Linked DNA regions of Homo sapiens: region 1 is linked to region 2. A link means that fine-mapping ties the variant in region 2 to the expression of a gene that starts in the linked region. Tissue or cell type: caudate. Region 2 holds a variant in brackets; the other region holds the start of a gene. All regions are shown on one strand. Distances are between the middles of the regions.

Region 1 (8,091 bases), 25 kb after region 2:
ACACAGAGAGAAAGCCCTGGAAGGCTGAAGCAGAGATTGGGTTGATGCTGCCACAAGCCAAGGAACACCTGGGGCTACCAGAACCTAGAAGCAGCGAGGAAGGATCCTTCCCCTCCAGGTTTCAGAGGGAACCTGGCCCTGCTGGCACTTTAATTTCAGACTTGTAGCCTCCAGAACTATGAGACAATAAATTTCTACTGTTAATAGCTGCTCAGTTACAACCTCCCTGGAAAGCACATACTCCTGTCCTATGGTTCTATTCTGTTCTGTACTATTTTGTTCTATTTTATTCTCTTTCATTAAGAAAATGGATTTCCAGGCTGGGCACGGTGGCTTACACCTGTAATCCCAGCACTTTGGGAGGCCAAGGCAGGTGGATAACTTGCGGTCAGGAGTTCGAGACCAGCCTGGCCAATATGGTGAAACCCCGTGTCTACTACAAATACAAAAAATTAGCTGGCTGTGGTGGCGGGTGCTTGTAGTCCCAGCTTACTCGGGGGGCTGAAGCAGGGAATCGCTTGAACCCGGGAGGTGGAGGTTGCAGTGAGCTGAGATTGCGACATTGCAGTCCAGCCTGGGCGGCACAGTAAGACTCTGTCTCAAAAAAAAAAAAAAAAAAAAAGGGAAACAGACTTCCCAATCTACTAATTTTGAACAACATCAGTCTCTAGAGCTCAGCATTCTTGCCCTTTCCAAGCTGGCTCCAGTCTAATTTTCTAACCTCAGTATTAGTTAACCCCCGACCCACCCTGAACACGCCTGGTGTCGCACAGTCCATCTGTCCAAGAGCACAGCATCAACCTGAGTGCAGGTGGCCTGCTCATTGCCTGTGCTGCCACCTTTCCCCTCAGTGGCTATTCATTTTTTAATGTCTAGCTTCAAGTCACCTCCTCTGACAGGATTCCCCTGGCTCTTCGGGCAGAGTCATTTGGTCCCTGTCCTCTGTTCCCCCACACACACACTTTATCAGCCCCAATTACAGCTCTTATATTGTATGATGGGATCAATCTGTGTGTCCCCTTCATCCCTTCCCCACAACTAAACTTCAAGTTCCCTAAAGAAGACTATCTTTTTTCTTGTTTTTTCTTTTTAATCAAGTGTCTAGCACAGAACCTGACACACGACAAATCCGAATACAGGGTACCCCAAAAAGGTCAGTGCAGTTTTAAGCTTTAATAACTTCTTAAGTCGAAATGCTACAAACTTACAAAACTCATTTGAACGTTTACTTCTTTTGACTCTGTTTTAATTATTTTAATAAATGTAATTTTCTCTTCTGGTTAATGTATGCCATATTTCACTCAGGGGAACTGAAACAAAAATTAAAGTTAAAACGTGTTATTCAACATTCACAGAGATAAATAGTGTTAAATTAACTTTCAAATGGTGTTCTTATAAGTTGCAGCATTTATAGCCTTGAGGTTACTAAAACTGCAGGAAGACTTTTGGGACACCCTGTTTTTGAATAAATATGCTTACAGCATGGCTCCTCCTGTGTTTACTGTAAAATTCAGTTTAGTTTTTAAGTGGTTCCACGTGGGCACAGGTATTCTTTGGCCAGTAGTTGTCCTTATACTTAGACCCAAGGAGCCCTTGTCCAGGGCCCACACTTTAGAAGGCAAATTCCAAATTCCCTCCCCAAATGGCACTGAGCCTGCTTCAAGGGTCTGCACGCCAGCAGCAGTGTTATCTGCTAATGTCTGTACTCCCATGGGCGAACATTGCTGACTCTGGTGTTCATACTCTTGTGCCCAAGAGGTGGCTGGGGGACAGCTGCTTCTGGGAAGCTTGACCGAGCTTCCACCAATGGACTAGAGCCCTGTGGGAAGAGAGGAGGTGGCTGCAAACCAGGAACTGGAAATCGCCTCTCCCTGCACCATCATATTTAAGTGCAGATCATCCAAAGTTTCAATCTGGCCTTTCATGTCAATTCCCAAGGTATATTTGTCTAGGTAGGAAGGTAGAACTTATTGTACTTAATCATTTGTTAACTTTGTTTATAACTTTTAAATATTTAGGTATCTGGCCTACAGATCTCTGTTTGTACTTTTGCCCTGGGTCCTGCATATATTAAAGGTGGGCTGATTTTGGCCTTAAAAGAATTATTTTCCCACAAACAGATTTTTCTCCTTAAAGAGCTAGGTGGGTAGGAAGTACTTCCATATGGAAGGTATGATAGCAAAGAATGACTGCAGTCACTGAGCACATACTTTGTGCTGGGTGATTTACACATAGTTTTTCAGTGAGTCCTCACAACAACCCAATAAAGTAGGTACTTAGGAGAAAACAGATATTCAGTGACATTAGTTTGTTCCAGCTCGTAAAACTAGTGCTTTAGTTAGCCTTAGTTGCATAACAAACTACGCGAAACTGAAAGTGGCTTAAAACAATTTTTCCCCCTGACTGTCGGGTTGGCTGGGCTGCTCTACTGCGGGTTTCCCTGGGCTCACTCCTGCAGCTAGCTGTGAGGAGATGGAGGTTGGCCCGGGACAGTGCAGAAGATTCCCCGTGGCCTCTCCCACCTGTCTGGCAGTTGACGCTGCTGTTGCTGATAATGATGACCCTCCTTTATTTTGTGTTATCTACTTGCCATTGCAACCTCCTTGCCTTTTTTAGTTCTTGCTCCCGTACTGTCTGGCTCGATGCCCAGCACCTGGTGGTGGCTAATAATATACACTCAGGTCACTTACAAGCAATGTGACCCTGGATGGGTTACTTAACCTCACTTAGTTTGTGTCCCCCAATTGCAAAATGGGTATAATGGTACAGAACACATCAGGTGGCTCTGAGACTCCAGCGCAGTGATTCAGGAGAGTGCTTGGCAGGACAGTGGCACTTGGTGCGAGCTTACTGCTAGTGCAGCTGGAATGTAGACCATCAGCGAACGTGTGTTGCCTTTTTAAACAGTGGGAATCAAACACCACTCGCTTTCCAAATGTAAATCCTGGGCTTGCAAGTAAGTCCTAGAGTGCAGAAATAATTTCAAAATACAGGGTTGAAATTTTAAGATAGCAGCTTTTAAAAACTGGGAGACAAAATCAAAATAAAACAAAGGGACAAACCAACCTGAATGGCACCCCGCCGATGCTCTTCATTAATTTTTAAGATTCCACCCTGGGGCTGCTTGCTTCTTCCAGCATGGGAAGCGCTGACTTGATGCGGCCAGGTTTCTGGGACCAGGAGGTTGGGACACGACGACGCACTTTTTGCCCTGTGGGTCTGGGTCATGTGAGCCTAGAGGAGCGCTTAAAGGCTCGAGTTCTGCAGGGTCCTCGTGACTGGGTGGGGCTGCCTCACTTCTGCCTGATTTGGGAAGCGCTGCAAGGACAACCGGCTGGGGTCCTTGCGCGCCGCGGCTCAGGGAGGAGCACCGACTGCGCCGCGTAAGTGCCGCCTGCCCTGCGTGGGTCGTGCCAGCTCAGCGGGACAGGTCCTCGCCTCGGTCCCTCGGACTTAGGGAGCGCGGGGCAGGTAGTCTCAAAAGCCCTCAGCACCAACAGGGGAGAAAGCACCGTAGAGTGAGACTGGAGTGGGGTGGTCGTGGCCGAGTCAAAGTTCAAATTGGAGCATTGGGGATGTACTGCGTGCGCCCAGCCGAGGGAATACTCTTGAAGTTTCCTGGCACAACTGTCGCACCCGGGGTTCTTCCAGGCTAGAAGCCGTCTCCTACTCCAGGAGCTCCTCCGGGGAAGTACGAAGCTGTGGGGTCCTCTGCCGCTCTTAGCGCGGGAGGGTGGCGGGTGCAGGACACTTTCCCTTACTCCCTCAACGCGTGTTTTGGGGATGTGTTGATTTCGTGGGTGCTCAGAAGCAAGAGAAGCGGAAAATACCTTCTATTTTGAACGTGCCCAAAGCAGGGAAACTTGGCTTCTGCCTAGGAACGCATAGGAAGACTTTTATTCTTGGAATGTAGGATTAGCAGAAACCAAGGGCACAGGAGACAGGTGGAAGCAGCTCCCTGTGAAGTGATACAGAAACAAAAGGACTTTGGAATATTTGTGGATTTAAATCCCAGTTCTGGCCTTGGCTAGTGAGTGACCTCGGGCAAATTATTTAAGCCTACTAAACCTCAGTCTTTCCATCTGAAAGATGGAGATAATAAGTTTTTCTTTTTAAAGAATTGTTTTATTGGAAATAGAAATAACATACAGAAAATGCCTCCCTAGCACGGGACTTGGCTTTTCAGCTAAGTGTAATTTTCCTTATCAGTTATGATTGATGATGAAGTCTATGGTGAAGACAGAACAAAATAATGTTTAAAACTCTGGCCATATAATGACTGTGGCTATGCATGACCCGTGTGCAGTCACCTCTGAGCCCCCCACCTTCACTGCAACCCCAGTGGGTCCCAAGCAAGGTGCTTGGGTTTTGGAGCTGGACAATTCTGTGCAATTCCTGGTTCCGGTATCCACTACTTGGATGACATCAGGGACGTAACTTATCTTCCACAGCCTCAGTTTTGGCATCAGTAAATGAAAAAGGAGCCCCTCAGTACTTGCCTTTCCCTTCCCCGGCTAAATGTACAACTCATTTTTTTTCCATTCTTTGCTTTGGGATGAGTAAGAACAAAGATGTAAGCAGAGTAAAAAGTCCATTGAGAATACATTTTATTAGCTTGGTAAATAACGTTTAAGAAAGTTGTCCAAAAGGAGAATTGGAGCACTTTTGGAAAAGTACACTGCACCGGCTTTGTTGGCATATGAAAGTCTGCATGGTCGTCAAGACCGTTTGGCTAACTGGGCATTCTAGATGTGTACCTCATGCTAGTCTAAGTACAGGGGCAACCCTTTATAATGTAGTGTCAGTGTTCTTAACCAGATGTTGTTTTATTAATCTTTTATAGGAGATGATTGTTTGGGAGGGGCAATTGATCCCCCAATTTATATAAATCCAGTTTATAAATCACTTTATAGTGGGATTCTACTAGCCTGAGAAATAGGTGGGTTTTGACTGACAGTTTGAATGACTTAGAAGAGTGTTAAGAAAGTCCACTGGGTTTACCAGTTCACTCCCCACAAAAAATAAAAACAAGAAGCAAATAATATAACAGAATTCTAAAAATGAGTTTGTTTTTGTTTTGGGAAGCATCTAGTTTGTCAGAGGAAACACTGAGTGTTGAATACTACCCTGGGATGCACAGAACTAAGGCAATGAGAGGGGAGGAACTCAGTTCTTGCCCCAGGTATCATCAGATATCTGTTTATTAGCACCCAAATACTCAAGGTAAATAGTAATGACCCATTCTTTCTTTTTTTGAGACAAGAGTCTCACTTTGTCACCCAAGCTGGAGTGGCACCATCTCTGCTCACTGCAACCTCCATCTCCCGGGTTCAAGGGATTCTTGTGCCTCAGCCTCCTGAGTAGCTGGAATTACAGGTGTACACCACCATGCCCGGCTAATTTTTGTATCTTTGGTAGAGATGGGGTTTTGCCATGTTGCCCAGGCTGGTCTCGAACTCCTGACCTCAAGTGATCCTCCCACCTCGGCCTTCCAAAGTGCTGGGATTACAGGCATGAGCCACTGTGCCTGGCCAGTGACCCCTTCTTAATAGGAAGTATGGTTCACTAAAGAGCAAACATGATTGTTTTAGTTTACCATTTCCGATGGCTTTATAATGTGAGATTTTCATTGACTGAACTAAGAACATTTAAAAGAAGTAGGCAAGCTTCTCAGAATTAGAAAGATACCTCTAGAACAATGACTCATTAACGTCTATATTGACTTGTGAGAGAGGTAAGCTGGGCAAAAAGCTAAGAACTGTACTTTCCTGGTAAAAACAGTAGTGGAGTTTGAACTTTTATACTATATTTGCAAGCTCAAAGATGTAAGCCTTAATAGACAGTTCACAAGACAGCTGTTACAGCGTATCTGAACTGAAACCAGGGTATTGAGATTGCTCTCCCTTAAGAGATATTAGAGGTATAACCTTGAACATGAAATCACATGCTTTCATTGCTTTAACTCAGACCCTGGGGTGCAGGACAGGGTGGTGGTAGTGAAAGAGGGGGAAGGACTGTGTCCTTAGATCTTGGAGCCTGAAAAAGCAAATTCTTAGCAGCTTATCTTTCCAATATAGTTGGAACTTACCTCCTACCTTTTTCTCTCTAGTCTGATTCTAGTTATTGGTTGTCTTTAAATTGCTTAGAATTGTTTACAGGCCAAAATATTTACTTTGAACCCTAAAGGTAAGCTCTTCCTCCTTTCCTTTTTGGGACTCTGTATCCCATTACCCCTCTTTCAAAAAGATAGTGCCACATATCTTTTTGTACTGTATGATTCTTGGGAGAGAATGTAACCCAGGTCCCAAGCGATTCATTTTCTCATTTATTTATTCATTTAACTAATTTTTTCCCAGTGTTTGATTATGAAAAGGTTTAAACTTTCAGAAAAGTCAAAAGAATTTTGCAATCTAGAATCTACCTAGATTCTATTATTGATTAGAAGCCAGGGTATTGATTTCAATTGATTAATCAACTGGCATTGATTAGTTCCTACTGTTTGCCTGGAGGTTTGCTCAGCAAAGCTGTAAAAACATAAAAGGCAGGGTAGGGTTAGGGAACAAGGAGAGTTTTGATTTGGCGGAGCATAGGCTAAGAGTTTGTGAAGGAATCATGTAACTTTGGTTTGAAAAGTTATGTTGAAGTTGTATCATGGAGGACATTAAATTTCATCGTAGAAAGTTTATACTTTTTCCTGGTTGCAGGTGGGAGCCATTGAAGGCATGGGAGGAATGGAGTGCCTTGTGTTTTAGAAAGCTCACTGAAGCATCAGTGTTAGGCTAAATTGGAGGGAAAAGGACCGGAAGTCTGAGAGATGTGTTAGGAAGCTTTGTAAATGTCTCGGGGCAAGTAAGGGTTGAACTGTGGATAGAATGGAGAAAAAAGGAAGTAGAATAGCACTTGGTGACAGATTTGACTTGAGGACTTCTGGTTTTAGAACTCAGGCATCTGCAATTATAAGGGAGCATCATTAAGAATCTGGAAGTCGCTGGGCATGGTGGCTCATGCTTGTAATCCCAGCACTTTGGGAGGCTGAGGCGGGCAGATCACCTGAGGTCAGGAGTTTGAGACCAGCCTGGCCAACATGGTGAAACCCTGTGTCTACTAAAAATACAAAAATTAACCAGGCGTGGTGGTGCATGCCTGTAATCCCAACTACTCAGGAGGCTGAGGCGGGAGAATCGCTGCAACCCGGCAGCAGAGGCTCCAGTGAACCGAGATTGCACCACTACACTCCAGCCTGGGCAACAGAGCAAGACTGTGTCTCAAAAAAAAAAAAAAAAGTATCTGGAAGTCATAGAAGGAGGAAGTTTGAGGAGAATGATGACGTCCTGTTATAGAGTCAGTGGGTTTGAGGGGCTGATTGGTTATCCTTTTGGAGGTGACAGCTGACAGTGGTGATACTGTCCTGAAATGCCCAATAGCAATGTCAGGACTGAACAAACATTTGGACTAGTGATTAATACTCAAGGGGTGGTTGAATGGGAATGTACGGAAAGAGAAAAAAGGATAAGATCTTGAAGAAAATCTGAATATATGGAGTCCTTGGAGCAAAAAATAAATACAGGTGTTCAATGATCTGTTAGTATTTTAATGCCTGTTTATCTACAGTGTTACTATAGCTGCAGTTCTCATTAATAATTGACCACAGTTCCTAACTAAAAGACCATATCTGCACTAGTAAAGTGAAGTAAGTCTTTCCTTTTCCCATTCTGGGAAGTTCAGGGGGTAAGGTGAGGCAGAGGAAAGAAGAAGAGAAAGTTAAATAAATTTTTTTATCTAGGACTTTTAGAGCATACAACGCTTTTTCCAGGTAACCCACTTGCAGATCAGAAGCCAGGTAATTTAATGAACTTGTCTATCTTTTCACAAGGCAACAGCTACTTTTTTTTTTTTTGAGATGGTGTCTCACTCTGTTGCCTAGGCTGGAGTGCGGTGGCACAATCTCAGCTCACTGCAACCTCTGCCTCCTGGGTTCAAGTGATTCTCCTGCCTCAGCCTCCTGAGTAGCTGGGACTACAGGCGTGTACCCCCACGCCTGGCTAATTTTTATATGTTTAGTAGAGACAGGGTTTTACCACGTTGGCCAGG
Region 2 (8,108 bases):
GCGATGGCACAATCTTGGCTCACTGCAACCTCCACCTCTTGGGTTCAAGCAATGCTTCTGCCTCAGCCTCCCAAGTAGCTGGGATTACAGGTGTGTGCCACCGTGCCCAGCTAATTTTGTATCTTTAGCATAGATGGGGTTTCACCATGTTGGCCAGGCTGATCTCGAACTCCTGACCTCAGGTGATCCGCCCAAGTCGGCCTCCCAAAGTGCTGGATTACAGGCGTGAGTCACTGCACCTGGACTCTCAAAATTGTTTAATCATTGTGTTGGGTATTTTCTTTCTGCCCCTTCCAAATCCACTCTACCATGTTCCATCCTGCTTTGTGCCCCCATGGCTAATCAGCTGAGCAACCTGTCCCTTGTCTGGACAGGTTCCTGTCCCTCTTGGGGGAGAAGCAGACCTTGGCTATGTACTGGTGTAGCCTCCAGGCCTCGAAAAGCTTTACTGTCTCTCCTCAGGGACTGATGACTTTTGCTTCTGTCCTTTCCCCAGAAGCAGATATGTGCCTGCATACCAAAATATGGAAAGACGGGATTGCTGGCCCCCCTCCAGAGGCAGAGGGCTTTGCTTCTCAAGGGCTTGCTGCTTCTTCCTGACAGCTTAATTAAGGCTTTTGCTCCCATGAGAGGAGCATCAAGGTGTGGGGGCAGCCACCTCCTCCTGCATCCTGTGCCACCAAACGGGGGGGTCTCTCCAGCCTTTTGCCCTGCCCTAGTCTTCCTCAAGAGCACCCCCTCTTCCCCATGGAGACTATGAAGAGAAGCTTGGGAGTGTGTGTGAACTCCGCTTGTGTCTGGGCCTCTCAATTATTCTAAATTAATATGAGATATGAGTGCATACTCAGTCTTTAGAAATTCTTTTTTTTTTTTTTGAGTCAGTCTCCCTCTGTCACCCAGGCTGGAGTGCAGTGGTGTGATCTCAGCTCACTGCAGCCTCCACCTCCCAGGTCCAAGTAATTCTAGTGCCTCAGCCCCCCAAGTAAGATGGAATTACATGGGATTACAGGCATGAACCACCACACTCGACTAATTTTTTTTTTTTTTTTTGGTAGAGACAGGGTTTCACCATGTTGGACAGGCCGGGCACCTGACCTCAAGTGATCTGCCCGCCTCAGCCTGCCAAAGTAAGGAATTCATTATTTTTAAAAAAATATTTCTTCTTACTCACTCCATGGCAACAACCCCCTCCTTCCTCCCATACTCTGCCAAAGGTGCAACAATTTCATATCCTGCCTCTCATTAGAGATGCTTTTTATCCTTTGAAGTTTACTTTCCTGGTTGCCTTGTGACCTCAAGTCTCTGATGAGTTTAAGGAAAGAAAGTTATAATATTGTACACTGTTCCTCATTTTCTTGTTGTTAGGATGGGGGTGACATTCTCTCGTAGCTTTCTATATTCCAAGCAGGAGCAGAAATCCTCATGTATTATTAATAGCACCACCTTTCACTTCATAATCACTGTGGGCTGGAGGATAAATTATATGGCTGCAGAAAGTTAGGCCCCCACTCGAGGCTACCAGCACCTGGCAGATGCATTCAGGGCAATGCCAGCTACAGGGCTTTTTTTCCTCTGGGTTCCTGCTTAGCTTTCTGGCCTTAGAAGATTTCCTTGACTTTCCTATAAGCTTAGGTGTGCATTTTTAAAAATGTTTTTTTAAAAACTATCTCATCCAGCTTTTTTTTTTTTTTTTTGATACAGAGTCTTGCTCTGTCACCCAGGCTGGAGTACATTGGCGCAATCTCAGCTCACTGCAACCTCTGCCTCCTGGGTTCAAGCGATTCTCCTTCCCCAGGCTCCTGAGTGGCTGGGATTACAGGCACCCACCACCATGCCCAGCTAATTTTTGTATTTTTAGTAGAAACAGGTTTTTGCCATACTGGCCACGCTGGTCTCAAACTCCTAACCTCAGGTGATCCACCCACCTCGGCCTCCCAAAACGCTGGTGAGCTACCACACTCGGCCTTATCCAGCATTTTTAAGTGGCAGAAAAGCTTCTCCAGATATCTAGTGAGTCATACAGCTGGAAACAGAAGTTGAAAAAAAAAGTTTTATAATATTAAAATGTTAAGGTTTTACTTCTTTCCCAATTAACATTAATGATTCTTGAAATCGTTGGTCAGATGACTGTATGTCAAAAAGCAATGGTTAATATGAAATTAATATTTAAAAAAAGGAATCTGTTAATGTCAAAGATGGACTTTACTAAGCTTTTCTTAAATATTCTAAAAATTCAATTTATCTGGAGGGTGTTAACATGAATAATTTAAAATTCATTTCCCAACTGCAAGGGAAATCAAATTGATTCCAATGGTTTTCCTGAATCTGAAGGCTTGGTTATTTTTAATAATTTTTTTTGGATGATAAATGGGTGGCAATATGATGATAGATGAGACAGAGATTATTGTTACAGCATATTAAGAAAACTTTAGACACTGATGCTATCATAACCAAGGGTGAGCCTAGGTGTAGAAGTCACAATGTTCCTGAAGCAGAATGTTGGTCAACTGGATGAGACCAGTCAACTAACAGAAATCAGCTGTGATGCCCACAGCAACCATGCTTTCAAGAACTCAGTGGGCCGGATGCTGGAGAGTAGGTGGTGCTGTTTTAATGATTTACAGTAAGATGCCCCATTAAAGGACTGAATCATTGCAGGAATCCCCCCATATATGGAAACCTAGGTACTCCCTGGGTTCCTTCTAGGTGGCAATGTAATCCAAGCGTATAAACGTGATACTGCTGACCCTACATCTGATTTGGCCCATCTGGCTGACTAGGGGGCTGTCTCCACCATTCCATGAGTTTTTTCTCCTGTGTACCACCCACTGCACCCTGCATTGTGCACTCTGTTGAGGAGGACAATTACTTCAGATACAGCTGGATTGTTCTTTAAAGTCAAACATATGGGAATTGGGGGCTTCCCTCCAAATCAGTTCGTAAGTCCATTTGTAAGAACTATATGTGACGGCATGCTTGAAAGCTTCAGCTACAACAACTTCATTTCTTAAAAAGTGATGGATTCAATAATGTTAGATGGATTTGATAGGCATGTATTATATTATGGAAAAATGAAAATGCATTCTCTGGAGACACACTGGTAGATTTCTAAATTATGTCATATGCTTGGATTTAGCCTGCAACAACTGCTATACTCTGAATTGTTCATCTCCGGACAAGTATTTAGTTTGTGGAATTTGATTTAATAGTGCCCCTTAAGGTATTAGAGTTTGTCTTTCCGGTCCACGTTAAAAGTCTCTGACCTTAAACTCTGTACAAAGAAAGCCCTTCAAAGAAAGCTCGGGGCTGAATTGAGGAGGATTCTGGGTAGAATCCTCTCCGTCTGGGATCCCCACCCTATTAGTTTACTTGAGGTGTGGCGCTCCTTCTAACAAGTTCAGCTTGAAGACTCTGAACTGGCTAATGCCGTTGTTTATTCCATTACATATGTATTATGTTGGTTTGTATCCCCACAGAATCACCAAGCCCAGTTTACAGGTTGTTCTTCTTTATAGACCTGTGAAATCCCCTGGGTGTTCCAAAGAGCTTTGGGGTTTCTGGGAATGTGGCAGAAAGAATACAGTAGGACGCGTATTAGGTGATGTCTGCGCTGTTCCTTCATGTGAAAGAGCAGTGCGTATGTAAGCAATGTTAGGGCTCTGCAGGCAAGAGTCAGAACTGGGGGGAAACCGGCAGTTCATTATGTCCAGCACCTTCCATCTCAATTGACACATCTCATAAAGTCGTTTTTTAATAAATCAGCTGAGTCATAGAGAAGTGTAAGTGATATGGTTTGGCTGTGTCCCCACACTAATCTCATCTTGAATTCCGACATGTTGTGGGAGGGACCCCGTGGGAGGTAATTGAAGCATGGGGGCAGGTCTTTCCCATGTTTTTCTTGTGATAGTGAGTAAGTCTCACGAGATCTGATAGTTGCTATAAGGGGAAGTTTTCCTGCACAAGCTCTCTCTTTACCTGCAGCCATCCACATAAGATGTGACTTGCTCCTCCTCGCCTTCCGCCATGATTGTGAGGCCCCCCCACCAGCCATATGGAACTATAAGTCCAATTAAACCTCTTTCTTTTGTAAATTGCCCAGTCGCGAGTACGTCTTTATCAGCAGTGTGAAAACAGACTAATACAGTAAGTCATTTTTGCCTGAGATTAGATATTACAGAAAGTCACACAGAAGTGTTCCATGAAGTTTAGAAATAAAAATTCTAGAAGACATACATTTGTCATGTAATGGTTGATTTTTCTTCAAAATATTCAGTGAATGTACAAAACCCATTTTAAACTAAGGACATGTACAAATTACTTAAATTCGTCCCCAGATGAACAATTGGAGAAAATATGAATAATGGGGGAAAATCTAACATGTGCAGTATTCAAAATTAATTAAAGAAAGGGCAAATCTTTGGCATCAAATGGAACAATGTTTTACTAGAGGTATGCATAAAAGGAACACTGACATGAAGGAAAGCATATTAAAATCTTGTGTTTGAAGATTCACTGTTCCCTAGAGTTGCTCTAGTAATTAAGATTAGCAAGAAATTTGTCAGATATTAAAACAAAAGAAGAGTTTCATCAGTATCACCAGCAATCTATTGTTAAACATAAAGTAGCCAAGGAAGCACCTTAGGACCATGTTTAAGAGCTCAGGGAATCCCCCTCCACCCCATAGGATTCCTGTCAGTTTACCTCCAGAGAATGGGCTTCTGCTAGAAGTCTGGGAGCACTGGATTAGTCAAGAAGGCCAAATACAAGGATCAAAAGGACACCACAGCTGGGCATGGTACTCACACCTGTAACTCCAGTGCTTTAGGAGGCAGAGGCAGGAGGATCACTTGAGCCCAGGGGTTCAAGGCTGCAATGAGCTATGATGGCGCCACTGCACCCCAGCCTGAGCAACAGAGCAGCAACCTGTATATACATATATATATACACACACACACACACACACGTATATATACTTATATATATGTGTGTATATATATATATACATCTTATCCCTGCCAGGTAGCCATGGAATAAGGATGTGAAGGTCTATAGGCACACCAGCTCTGACTGAGCAAACAGTGGTCAGAA[G/A]GGAGGAAGAAGCTTTTCTGGATCAAATGTGTCAAGCAGGCCCTGAGAAGAAAAGACAGAGCAGCACATGATGGCAGCCATACATAGGACATGAAAAGGCAGAAGCCAAAGAAGAATAGGTAGAAAAAGCCAATGGTCCTGTTTTGGTCTTTTCAGTTACTCTTCAGTACACCGTCAGCTACTTAATCTCCCTTTCCTCTTGTTTAAGTGAAAGATAATATAACAATAACAAAACAGTTGTATTTATTTTTAACATAACATTATTGTATATAAACATTTATATAAAAACAAAATAGGACAAATCACTAATGGTAAGTTTTTAAAAATAATTAAAATGGTGTGTTTAGAGGGGTATGAAAATGGAATTGTTAAACTCTAAAAGAGCACACTGTACATGAATGCCTTAGAAGAAGCAACTCAATAGGATGATATATTTTAAGGGATTGAATAATAGAATGTTCTTCCCAGAATCTTCTACAATGGTAATATCAGCATAGTGCATTTATTCGTAGTACAACCATGTATTTTGAGTAACATGCCTTTCAAAAACAGTACTGAATATACAATGCATAGACCACCTAGAATAGGTATGAAAGAAAGAAAACTGAAATGAATAAAATGGGGAAAATTCCATGTTTTATTCTATGGGAGATAAATTTCTTATATATCCATTAGAATTGCCTATGAAAATCAAACCACAATTTGAGTCCATTTTCCTCATGATATTCTAATAACCAGGACTTCCATTTTCATCAAATAGAATTTATTATACATTTACTTTTGAATCACATTGGGCTGGGTATTACTTAAAACATGGCGAATAGAAATAGTTCATACCTCTTAGAAGCTTATAGATTAAATGGATAGTGGTAAACACGCATATGTAAAAATCATGCACACATAATACATACTTAGTAGTACATGTCTAAACAACATGAATACATGCTAAACTAAATTACTTCTAGTGCTTTTAGCATAATATAATGGAAAAATAGTTTTTAAGTGTGTTTAGCCATCTGATTAGCTGAGACACAAACTCTCCCTGGAAGCCTACAGCTGAGGTTTGAGGGGGAAGAGGGAAAGCTTTCAGCCTATACAGGTTGGGGGATTGGAACAGAGACCCTCACATAACACTGGACCTCCAAATTGCAAAGAGTTCTTACCTTTAGAGATACACAGATGAAACTATAGGATGTCTGGCATTTTCTTCAAAATAATCCAGGGGTGGGAGGAATGGGTAGAGATTACAGATGCAAAAAAGATTGACTATGAGTCCATAATTATAGAAGCTGGGTATGGCTACATGGAGGCTTATTAGAATATTCTATTTTGTATGCTTGAAATTTTCTAAGATAAAAAGTTTTATTTAAGAACCATTAAAAGAAAAACCAAAAATTGTGTAATGGAATTGAAACAAAGCTGACACAAGATGAGAATCCAAAATGTCTAAAGAACTTCTAGAAATCAATAAGAGAAAGACAAAGAAACCCATTGAAAGATGGTTTAAACAAACAAATAAACCGACATTTTATGAAATAAAAAAATGCCCAGACCAAACGTCAGAAGATGTGCAGTCTCATTAGTAAGCAGGAAAAAGCAAATTAAAACCACAATGAGATATTCTGTATGTTATGATATGCTAGGTAATATTGTTGCCACCAACACCCAAGAATCATACCAACAAAATTTTACTTCTCACTCACACAAATGTCCAGTTTAGGTCATCTGGGAACTGTGGTCAGTCATCTGTTCATTATGATCACTCATGTTCCCAGGGTCACACAACAGTTACCTCCGATGTTGTAGGCCTCCTTGTCAGAGGGAAGGAAAGCATGGGGGTTTTTGCATCAGTAAGTAATTGCTCCAGCCAGGAGCTGGCAGACATTCCTTCACAATTCATTACAAGTCAAACTCACTCATAACAAGGATTTAGGAAGTGCAATTCCTTCTACTATGTGCTTGGAAGCAGAGAAAACTGGAAATGTTTAGGGAAAACAAATGACTTTCACAGATGCCAGTTTTTTTCTATCAGATTGGCAAAACTATATAGTCTGACAAAACCAAATATTGGTGAAGATGTAGAGCAATAAAAACACTTACACACTTTTGACTGAAGAGTAAATTGGTACCACTACTTTAAAAAACAATTTAGTGTTATTTAGCAAAGTTGAAAATTCATATAGTCTTCGACTCAGCAATACCACTCTAAGATACATACTTTAGAAATAGTTTTGCATATGTGCACCAAAGACATATTCAAATATGGTCATAGAAGCACTGTTTGTACCAGCGAATCAAACAAGCAAAAAGAAAAACTGGAAATAGCTCTCATGTCCGCAGATAGTGGATAATTTTTTGAATATTCATTTAATGAAATACCATTTAGGATAGAATATGAATGAACAGATACATGTTCATCTGGTTGAATTTCAGAAACATATTGAATGAAAAAAGTAAGCCTAGAATTATTGTATTTGACAAAGGTCTAAAAAAGTTAAAATTAATATATTATTTTAGGATTACATACTTAAGCAAAAATAAATAATTAAAAGTTAGTTTAACACAAAATTCAAGATATTGTACCTTTGAGTACACTTTGAGTGTATCAAGGTAGGGATGTTACCAGGGACAGATTTAAGGTATTGATAATATTCTTTTCGTCAAGTTGTTTGGAGTTGTAAACATTGTTCACTTTGTTATTATTCTTTAACTTGTACATATACAGTATATGTACTCTATGCATGCAAAAAAGCATAGAAATATATCTTATATTGTGGAGAAAAATCAGTCAATGGAAACAGAACAAAAATGACACAGATAGTAGAACTAGTAGTCAAGGACATTAAAAGAACTATTATAAATATGTTTCAAATGTTCAAGAAGGTACAGGAAATAGAAAAACAAAAAATAGAGAATATCATTGGAATAAAAAACTGGTTTTTTGAGATCAGTGAGTGATAAACCTTTAGCTGGATTCATCAAGAAAAAAATAGAAATGATACAAATTATTAATTATAGAA

Evidence for each region. PIP is the estimated chance that this variant, and not a neighbour inherited with it, causes the effect.
Region 1: it holds the start of CPVL, and the variant in region 2 is fine-mapped to the expression of CPVL in caudate (GTEx, PIP 0.99).

What each region holds. Positions count from the first base shown.
Region 1 is chr7:29,141,721-29,149,811 of GRCh38, reverse strand. It overlaps CPVL (carboxypeptidase vitellogenic like), which reads left to right and starts at 3,275. Exons shown (of 13, transcript NM_031311.5): 1 at 3,275-3,383. It also overlaps a transcript of CHN2 not described here.
Region 2 is chr7:29,166,717-29,174,824 of GRCh38, reverse strand. It overlaps a transcript of CPVL not described here and a transcript of CHN2 not described here. Among named protein-coding and RNA genes, the nearest start is that of CHN2, 24 kb to the left of the region's middle. The variant G/A (reference allele first, on the strand shown) is at 5,089.